2 linked regions of the Homo sapiens genome follow. The protein of the gene in region 1 interacts with the protein of each later gene in a biochemical or structural test. Each region holds a gene or a part of one and is shown on either strand. Other genes may lie near its edges.

What was found. The genes of interacting proteins can lie anywhere in the genome.
Region 2: the proteins of CSF1 (region 1) and SLA2 form a complex in vitro, tested with the Homo sapiens proteins (one study listed by BioGRID).

Annotation. Positions count from the first base shown.
Region 1 is NC_000001.11:109,927,837-109,931,520, reverse strand, and holds the end of CSF1 (macrophage colony-stimulating factor 1 isoform a precursor), read right to left. Parts: intron 2,670-3,684; 3' UTR 529-2,669; downstream 1-528. UniProt on the Homo sapiens protein: Cytokine that plays an essential role in the regulation of survival, proliferation and differentiation of hematopoietic precursor cells, especially mononuclear phagocytes, such as macrophages and monocytes.
Region 2 is NC_000020.11:36,615,176-36,622,215, forward strand, and holds part of SLA2 (src-like-adapter 2), read right to left. Parts: intron 200-7,040; coding exon 50-199; intron 1-49. UniProt on the Homo sapiens protein: Adapter protein, which negatively regulates T-cell receptor (TCR) signaling. Inhibits T-cell antigen-receptor induced activation of nuclear factor of activated T-cells.

The DNA of each region.
Region 1 (3,684 bases):
GAAAGCCACACCCTCAGTCTCCTCTCCAGCTCCAGTAGGAAGGTCGAGCCCGAACGAGGGCCCTTACACGGACTCCTGGCTCTCCCCTGCTAACCACACTCACTTCCCAGCCTGGAAACAGAATTCATTCACCTCAGAGTCTGCAAGGACCTAGCCAGCAACCTCTGCCCTGGTCAGCAGGGCTCAGCAGTCAAGGAGCCTTATCCTTGCAGGCCGCCGGGGCCCTTGGACAGAGCCCAACCAGCCATTTTCCCAGGCTGGGCTAGGCTGGGCAGGAGCAGGGGCCAGTGACCAGGCCTGATGTTTGGCCACTTTCTGCCCAATACGAGCAGATATGCAGATGAATGTGTTTGGGACAGCAATAATACAGGAGGTTTTGGTACCAAGACTGAAACTTGGAGAGAACCTTCCTCCCCTGTGTTTTGTGGAAAAAGGTTCTCTGAGCTGGGGTTCATCCGGCAACTGCTGCCCACCCACCCTGATGTTTGCCACCCACACCCCAAAAGCAACTTTCCCACGACTCACATGGCAGCTTGTGCACTTCTTTTATTATTAAATATATAAGCAGCTTCCTATCTTTTAAATAGATATTTAAATGACTTTATATAAAATAATTCACCACTTCCAAGTATAAAAACAAAATCTCACAGTGCGTGAGCCAATGTCCTCTCTTGACTTCTCAGAGAACAGAAGGGGTTCCTGAGCAGGTAGCCTGGGGGGACACCAGAGGTGGCTCTGGGGCTCCTCCTGCTCTGATGCCACCAAGTGCTCAAAAAGAGCTTCTGCAGTGGGTTGGATTGCTTTTTTGACCTTTAAAATATTATATGTTTAAGGTAGGGGGATGAAGGGGGAATGCCTTTTTATTTTTCTTCCATTTAAAAATATGTGTTTTCTAGCATCAAATATAGAGGCTGTGACTAGAAGGCTAAGCCCCATATGCAAGTTCACTGCCCTTCCCTAAGCTGTCGGCATCAGGACAGGGAAGGTGGGGCCAGCCGACCCTCACTTTCCTGGGCAGGAAGGGAAAGTCACGGGGCCCAGCGGCCAGGTAGGGCAGGGTCTCTTAGCGGAGGACAAAGGGCGGCAGGAGAGGAGGCACACAGCAGCACAAAGGAACCCAGGGGCAACTGGCAGCCCTGTCGCTCGTTGCCTAGGCCTCAGAGCCACCACCACAGGCTGGCCACAAAGTGGAGGCCCTCCAGGCATTGGAAGCTGAGGCCTGGCTCTCCTGATTGCTCTCCCACCCTGGCTTGCCTGGTTAGAGGTGATGGTAGAGGGGGTGGGTGAGAGTTGGAGGTCATCACTGCTGACCAAGGTCAGGAGGAAAGAAGGGTGAGAAGTGGATGGGAGCTGGATACCATGCAGGTGGGGCTGAGATGCAGCCCAGTCCAGGGCTCCTGACAGGGATAACCTGTTCAGCCCCAGGTTCCTGTCGGCAGCAGGGAAAGGACACTGCGCTGGGGTTTGGGAGTGCAGACCCTCCCCCAACCTCAGGTGCATACCTATATTTCAAAGGCCCATCTTCAGTCAGAGCTCGCCCTGTAGCCTCTCTGTCTGTGCCCTCCCCTCCCTTGCTCTCTCCCACTAGTCCCTTCCCTCTTGGGAATGTCAAAGTGCAAGATGCAGAAACCTGGGCGAACAACACAGCCTAAAGACCGGCTCTGGCTGGCGGCCCAGGAGGTTCTCCCACCCCACTCCACTCCGGGGAGTCAAAGGCCAGGTCAGGAGAAGGTCAGGGCTGAGGGGCTCCCTCAGTCGACTGGTGAGGCCAGCTCAGTGCAGGAGGCTGGGGAGAGGCTGGAGAGTGGAGGACGGACGGATGCTGGCTCATGGATGGACGGGGGCAGGCTGTTCAGCAGGCAGGTACAGTGTTCACAGTGCAATGGCTTCCTTCATGAGGGGAGCCTCTGCTTGGCCTCCTGGAGAAGCTCTGGCAGGTGCTGGAAGGAGGAGGGGCAGAGGCCAGTGCTTGATCCCCCTCTTGGCATCACTGGCAGGTCAGGCAGGTCCTGAGGGCAGGGCTGGCCTCCCCTCTGCGCCTGGCAACCAGCACAGGGCACTTAGGTGAGCCGAGGGTGTAGACCCTTCAGGCTGTCAGTGCAGACCAGCAGGTCCAGAGGCCTCCTCTTCCCGTCTCTCAGGCTGCACACCTTTACGGGAAATCAGGCCGACGCTGTCCCGCCCCACGAACTTCAGGCTCCTCTCTCTGGAGACAGGTCCATGCCTGTCCAGGCTGGGATACCTTGGCACCAGGCAGGCCCTCTGGGTGCAGGGTTCTTTCACTCCTCAGCGTCCACCCTGCTTTCCCACAAACCACAGGCCGGTGGGTCCCTGGCCTGGGTTCCGGCATGGAAGGGAGTGAGAGGAGGGTGCAGCCCCTGAGGGAAGAGGGTCCTGAGCCGGGCTCACCAGCCTTCCTCAAGCACATGGGAGCCTCCAGGGCTCACAATAAATAGTGGCAGCATGGGGAGCATCCTCTGGCCTCTCTCATTCAGTCAAGGGTCTGCGGGTTGAGACAGAGGGGCCCCAGCCTGGCTGCTCTGGTCCAGTCCTGGCAGGCAGGAGCTCTGGTGGAGGGCAGACCACATTCCAGGAGGATGGCCAGGGAGGGGTGGTGGTGGACGCCCCATAATGTCTCCTCCCACGGAGAGACTGTTCTGTGCGTCCAGCTGTGGGAGAGAAGGAAAGGCTAGTCAGCAGAGTGGGAATGCGGGGAGGGTCGTTGAGGACATGGATTGGGAGGTGTGGCATTCCTGTGGGCTGCTGGCGGTGCTGCAGGCAGGACTTCCTTTCCTCCCTTCCCTGGCCTTTCCAGACACCACAGAGAGACCAGGCAGCTTTCTCTGGCACCAGCCCAGGCCTCTGGCCCAACTGGCCTCACCTCCTACCTCCTCCTGGGGAATCAGGGCCTCAGTGGAAGATAACGGGGCCCGGGAGAGGTCTGGGCAGGGCTGGGAAGAGGGGTTACTGCTCAAGCAGAGGGCTCTGACAAGGAGCGAAGCGGGCACTTGAATGTCTTTGGACCCCTCCTCAGGCGAGGTCATCTCATTGGCCTTGGTCCAGTGAACAAAGGGTGATTCCTGCTAACACTAGCAAAGAAGAATCTTTCATTTCATCAGAGGGGCATCACATATGATGTTCAAGACAGTAGGGCAGAGCTAGCTGAAGAGGAACAACTTGGGCCAGAGAGGAAAAGTCTAGAGGCAGTGCCAGGACAAGGAAATTCCCACACTGTCATTTGGCACGCGACCCCTAAGCAACCCAGCCCCTCCTGGATGGGCCGAGGGCCTTGCCTCCCGCATCATCCATGGGAGTCAGGGCCTTGTCCTCTCGCCTTCCACCCCCATCCTTGTCCTCTTGCCCAGCATCCTCAGGACGCTTTGTTCCCAGAGCAGAAATCCCCTGGACCCCATCCAACAGTTTGACTTTGGACCTTGTGTGGAGCCTCCCTCCCTAACATCCATAGGCCCTACTGGGTAAGGAGGGAAGATGGAACCACAGCCTCTGGCTCCCTGCCCATTCCCATGCTCTAGAGGGAAAGAAGGGGAACCATAAACTGGACATGAGCCATGCTGGGTACAGCCAGGCCACAGGCCCAGCTAGGGCCCAGGAGGGGAGAAGGACCCAGTGAGCGAGTTCCAGCCTGCTGCCCCATCTTCTAGCTGCTTAGGGCTGAGGTGCTGG
Region 2 (7,040 bases), on another chromosome or scaffold:
TCCCCACAGACTATCCCAGCCTAGTCCTGGAGGCAGGGAAAGGCCATACCAGAGTAATGGTCCACCAGGGCCTGGAGTGAGGGGAAGGTGAGGCGCGGTGAGATGTACAGCCAGCCATTGTCAAGGCAGTGGATCCTGTAGTGTCTGATCCGGTCCCAGGATGCAGGGCGGCTGAGGCGGACTGACAGAGAGTAAGAGCCTGAGGAGAAAGGGGTCCAGGGGTGGCACTGAGGCCCTGCTGGGACTCGGCCCCACCTAGGCTGGGAAACGAAGATAGGCAACGTGACCATGGGGCCCCGGCAGAAGGGAAGTGTCTGGGGCAGAAGCAGGACAAAGACTTGCTCTCTTGGTCATCAATAATATGTTCATAATAGATGGGGGTCTTGTGAGGGTGAAATCAAATCACACACAGAGCCCTCAGTACAGGGTCTGGCACTGTGTGAGTGAACATTCAGCGTTGGCTGTTCTTACAAAGACTCAGGTGGCAGATATGTTAGGATGCAAAAACACTGTCAAGAAGATGCTGGCAAGGAAGTGGAGAAGTAGGACCTCCCACCCTGCTGGTGGAAGAGAAATTAGTACGAGCCACCTTGGAAACAGTTTGGCATTAACTAGATGAGCTGAACATGCACGTACCTTACAACCCAGCAGTTCTTCCCAGGCACAATACCTCAGAAGCACACAAGCAATATGCACAGCGGCATTGTTTGTAAAAGTCAAAAACGGCAAACAGCCCGTTTGTGCTCAAGAGTAGAATAAATTGTGGATTATAGAGTGTAGTGCTATACAGCAGTAAAAATTAATAACTGCTACATATAAGCATAAGGAAATCTTGGAAATTAAGCAGAAAAACATTACAGAGCATACATTCAGCCTGATTCTATTTAAAGTTCAAAGATAGCCAACATGACATTATATGTTGCACAGGCACACACGGCAAAGCTCTGAAGAAAAGCAACTGAATGATTAACACAGTGAAGCATGAGAGGGGGCTACAAAGGGCTTGTTAGGTAATTTCAGCTGGCAAGTGGGCGCGTGGATGTCAGTTTTATTAGTGCTGCTCAACCTACATGTATACATTACATACACTGATGAATGACAGTTTCACCAGCTTTGCATGTTTCATTTTTTCATTTTTTTTTTTTATTTTAATTTTCTTTTTTTTTTTTTTTGGAGACAGAGTCTCCCTCTGTTGCCCAGGCTGGAGTGCAGTGGTGCAATCTCGGCTCACTGCAACCTCCGCCTCCTGGGTTGAAGTGATTCCCCCGCCTCAGCCTCCCGAGTAGCTGGGACTACAGGCGCCTGCCACCACCACGCCCGGCTAATTTTTTGTATTTTTGGTAGAGACAGGGTTTCACCATATTTGCCAGGCTGGTCTCGAACTCTTGACCTCGTGATCCGCCTGCCTCAGCCTCCCAAAGTGCTGGGATTACAGGCATGAGCCACCGCGCCCAGCCAGATTTTAATTTATTTTTAGAGCCATGCTCTCGCTCTGTTGCCCAGATGGCGTGCAGTGGCATGATCACAGCTCCTGGGCTCAAACAGTCCTCTTGCCTCAGCCTCCTGAGTACTTGGAATTATAGGCGTGAACCACCCCGTGCCTGGCCATATAAGCACATTTAAAATATTAAAACAGGCTAGGGGCAGTGGCTCACGCCTGTAATCCCAGTTCGAGACCACCCTGGCCAACGTGGTGAAACCCCATCTCTACTAAAAATACCAAAGTTAGCTGGGTGTGGTGGTGCACACCTGTAGTCCGAGCTACTTGGAAGGCTAAGGCAGGAGAATCACTTGAACCCAGGAGGCAGAGGTTGCAGTGAGCCGAGATTGTGCCACTGCAGTCCAGCCTTGGCAACAGAGCAAGACTCTATAAATAAATAAATAAAAAACCCAAGGCCGGGGACGGGTGCAGTGGCTCACGCCTGTAATCCCGGCACTTTGGGAGGCCGAGGTGGGCGGATCACCTGAGGTCAGGAGCTCAAGAACAGCCTGACCAATGTGGCGAAACCCTGCCTCTACTAAAAATACAAAAAAAAAAAAAATTAGCCAGGTGTGGTGGTGTGCGCCTGTAGTCCCAGCTACTTGGGAGGTTGAGGCAGGAGAATTGCTTGAACGCAGGAGACAGGTTGCAGTGAGCCGAGATCACACCACTGCACTACAGCCTGGGCAACAGAGCGAGACTCCATCTCAATTAAAAAAATAAATAAACAAGGCTGGGCAGAGTGGCTCATGCCTGTAGTCCCAGCTACTCTGAAGGCTGAGGCAGGGGGATTGCTTGAGCCCGGGAGGTGAAGGTTGCGGTGAGCCAAGATTGTGCCACTGCACTCCAGTCTGGATGACAGAGTGAGACCCTGTCTCAAAAAAAAAAAAAAAAAAAAAAAATTAAAACAAAAGTTAATGGGCCGGGCGCGGTGGCTCACGCCTATAATCCCAGCACTTTGGGAGGCCAAGGCAGGCGGATCACAAGGTCAGGAGATCAAGACCAGCCTGGCTAACACAGTGAAACCCCATCTCTACTGAAAATACAAAAAATTAGCCAGGCGTGGTGGCGTGCGCCTGTAATCCCAGCTACTCAGGAGGCTGAGGCAGGAGACTCGCTTGAACCCAGGAGGCAGAGGTTGCAGTGAGCCGAGATCAGCCACTGCACTACAGCCCGGGCGACAGAGTGAGACTCCGTCTCAAAAAAATTAGTCCAGGCGCAGTGGCTCAAGCCTGTAATCCCAGCACTTTGAGAGGCTGAGGCAGGCAGATCACGAGGTCAGGAGATCAAGATCATCCTGGCTAACACGGTGAAACCCTGGCTCTACTAAAAATATAAAAAATTAGCCGGGCGTGGTGGCGGGCGCCTGTAGTCCCAGCTACTCGGGAGGCTGAGGCAGGAGAATGGCGTGAACCCAGGAGGCAGAGGTTGCAGTGAGGCGAGATCGTGCCACTGCACTCCAGCCTGGGTGACAGAGCGAGACTCCGTCTCAAAAAAAAAAAAAAAGGCTAAAAGTAAAAAGATGGAAAAAAGATATATCATGCAGACAACCATAAGTAAGCTAGAATGGCTTATTAATGGGAGAATGTTAGTGGGATATTAATATCAGACAATAGAATTCAAAAGACTGGAGTGCAGTGGCATGATCTTGACTCACCACAACCTCCGCCTTTCAGGTTCAGGTGATTCTCCTGCCTCAGCTTCCCAAGTAGCTGGGACTACAGGCACGTGCCACCATGCCCGGCTATTTTTTTGTTTTTTTAGTAGAGATGGGGTTTCACTATGTTGGCCAGGTTGGTCTTGAACTCCTGACCTTGTGATCTGCCCACCTTGGCCTCTCAAAGTGCTGGGTTTACAGCTGTGAGCCACTGTGCCCGGCCAACAAATTTAAAAGGATTGAAATCATTAAAAATATGTTGTCTGGCCACAATGGAATTAAATTAGAAATTAATAAGGAAAAGGTATCTAGGCTGGGCGCAGTGGCTCAAGCCTGTAATCCCAGCACTTTGGGAGGCAGAGGCTGTTGGATCACCTGAGGTCAGGAGTTCAAGACCAGCCTGACCAACAAGGCAGCCTGACCATCTGTACTAAAAATATAAAATTAGCTAGGTATGGTGGCACATGCCTATAAATCCCAGCTACTTGAGAGGCTGAGGCAGGAGAATTGCTTGAACCCAGGCAGCGGAGATTGCAGTGAGCCGAGATTGTACCATTTCACTACAGCCTAGGGAACAAGAGTGAACTCCATCTCAAAAAAAAAAAAAAAAAAAAAAAAAAAAGTATCTAGAAGCCAGGTTTGGTGGCTCACGCCTGTAATCCCAACACTTTGGGAGGTTGAGGTGGGCAGATCATTTGAGGTCGAGAGATTGAGATGCGTCTGACTAACATGGTGAAACTCCATCTCTACAAAAAATACAAAAAAATTAGCCAGGCTTGGTGCCAGTAATTCCAGCTACTTGGGAGGCTGAAGCAAGAGAATTGCTTGAACCTGTGAGGTGGAGGTTGCAGTAAGCTGAGATCACGCCACTGCACTCCAGCTTGGGCAATGGAGTGAGACTCTGGGGGAAAAAAAAAAAAAAAAAAAAAAAGGCTGGGTGCGGTGGCTCACACCTGTAATCCTAGCACTTTGGGAGGCTAAGGTGGGTGGATCACCTGAGGTAAGGAGTTCAAGACCAGCCTGGCCAACATGGTGAAACCCCATCTCTACTAAAAATACAAAAATTAGCCAGGCATGGTGGCACACGCCTGTAATCCCAGCTACTTGGGAGACTGAGGCAGGAGGATTGCTTGAACCTGGGAGCAGGAGGTTGCAGTGAGCCAAGATCACGCCACTGCACTCCAGCCTGGGCAATATAGCAAGACTCTGTGTCAAAAAAAAAATTGGAGAGACTGAAGTGGGAGGGTCACTTGAGGCTAAGAATTAAAGACCAGCCTGGTCAACATAGAGACCCCCTTCCCATGTCTGTACAAATTTTTTTCTTTTTTTTTTTTTTGAGACAGAGTCTCGCTCTCTCACCCAGGCTGGAGTGCAGTGGCGCCATCTCGGCTCACTGCAAGCTCTGCCTCCTGGGTTCACGCCATTCTCCTGTCTCAGCCTCCCAAATAGCTGGGACTACAGGTGCCTGTCACCACACGTGGCTATTTTTTTTTGTATTTTTAGTAGAAACGGGGTTTCACCATGTTAGCCAGGATGGTCTCGATCTCCTGACCTTGTGATCCACCTGTCTCGGCCTCCCAAAGTGCTGGGATTACAGGTGTGAGCCACCGTGCCTGGCCAAAAAAAAATTTTTTTTTAATTAACCAGGTGTGGTGGTGTGAGCCGATAGTCACAGCTACTCAGGAGGCTGAGGCAGGAGAATCACATGAACCCAGGAGGCAGAGGCAATTATTATGCCACTGCACTCCAGCCTGGGCGACAGAGCGAGATTCCACCTCAAGAAAAAATAAAAACAATGCTGGGCGCGATGGCTCACACCTGTAATCCCAGCACTTTGGGAGGCCGAGGCGGGCAGATCACGAGGTCAGGAGTTCAAGACCAGCCTGGCTAACATGGTGAAACCCCATCTCTACTAAAAATACAAAAATTAGCTGAGCGTGGTGGTGGGCGCCTGTAATCCAGCTACTCAGGGAGCTAAGAATCACTTGAACCGAGGAGGCAGAGGTTGCAGTGAGCCGAGATTGCGCCACTGTACTCCAGCCTGGGCAACAGAGCTTGACTCTGTCTCAAAAAAATAAAATAAATAAAATAAAGAAGATACAGAAGAATATAATTTGAGAGACCTCTGAAAAGTATGGCAAGATTAAAACCATAGAAGTTATGGAAGACAAGCAGAGTCGAAAAAAGGATTTGCTTTTGTAACTTGATGATCAAGATATAGTTTTTAAAATTGTTCAGAAATACCACACTGGCTTTTTTTTTTTTTTTTTTTTTTGAGACAGAGTCTCCGTCTGTTGCCCAGGCTGGAGTACAGTGGTGAAATCTAGGTTTACTACACCCTCCGCTTCCCAGGTTCAAGGGATTCTCCTGCCTCAGCCTCCTGAGTAGCTGGGATTACAGGTGTGCACCACCAAGCCTGGCTAATTTTTGCATTTTTAGTAGAGACAGGGTTTCACCTTGTTGGTCAGGCTGGTCTCGAACTCCTGACCTCGTGATCCACCCGCCTAGGCCTCCCAAAGTGCTGGGATTACAGGTGCGAGCCACCACGCCCAGCCAGAAATACCACACTGTTAATGGGCATAATGGTGAAGTGAAAAAGGCCCTTACTAAATAACAGAGGTAGCCTGCTGGATGGTAAGTAGTCGTGGAGGTGGATCTGGCAATTTTACAGGTTACAGAGGAAACTTTGGAGGTAGTAGAGGTAATTTTGGCTGCAGTGGAAACTTTGGTGGAAGAGAAGACTGTGGTGGTGGAGATGGTGGCAGCAGAGGTAGTTATGGAGGAGGTGATGGTGGCATCAATGATGGTGAGCCTGCTTATAGCAGTAGACGGGGCTGCTGTGGTGGTGGAGCAAGATATGAAAACCAAGGTGGTGGATATGGTGGCGGTGGCGGAGGATATGATGGTTACAATGAAGGAGGAAATTTTGGCGCTGGTAACTATGCTGGTGATGGGAACTATAATGATTTTAGCAATTATAGTGGACAACAGCAATCAAATTATGGACCTATGAAAGGAGGCAGTTTTGGTGGAAGAAGCTCAGGCAGTCCCTATGGTGGTGCTTATGGATGTGGTGGTGTAAGTGGTAGATATAGTAGCAGAAGGTTCTAAAAACAGCAGAAAAAGGCTATAGTGTTGTTTTTTTTTTGAGACGGAGTCTTGCTGTGTCACCAGGCTGAAGTGCAGTGGCGCGATCTCGGCTCACTGCAGGATCTCTGCAGGAGAATCGCTTGAACCCGGGAGGCAGAGGTTGCAGTGAGCCGAGATCGCGCCACTGCACTCCAGCCTGGGTGACAGAGCAAGACTCCATCTCAAACAAAACAAAACAAAACAAAAAACAAAAACTGAACATCACTTGCTTAACAATGAGGATAAATGTAAAATTAAAATTTATTTTAAAAATAAGAACTAAACATTGGCCAGGGACAATGGCTAATGCCTGTAATCCAAGAACTTTGGGAGGTGGAGGTGGGAGAATCACTTAAGCCCAGCCAGGAATTTGAGACAAGCCTGGATAACATGGTGAGAGTCTTTCTCTACAAAAAATTTAAAAATTAACCAGGCATGGTGGTACATGCCTGTGGTCCCAGCTACTCCAGAGGCTGAGGCAGGAGAATCGTTTGAGCCTGTGACGTTGAGGCTGCAGTGAGCCATGACTGTGCCACTACACTCCAGCCTAGCCAACAGAGGAAGACTCTGTCTCAATCAATCAATAGCTGAACATTGGCTGGGTGCGGTGGCTCACACCTGTAATCCCAGCGCTTTGGGAAGCCGAGGCAGGTGGATCACCTGAGGCCAGGAGTTCAAGACCAGCCTGGCCAACCCATGGTGGAAGTTGCAGTGAGCCAAGATCATGCCACTGCACTCTAGCCTGGGTGACAGAGCAAGACTTGATCTCAAAAA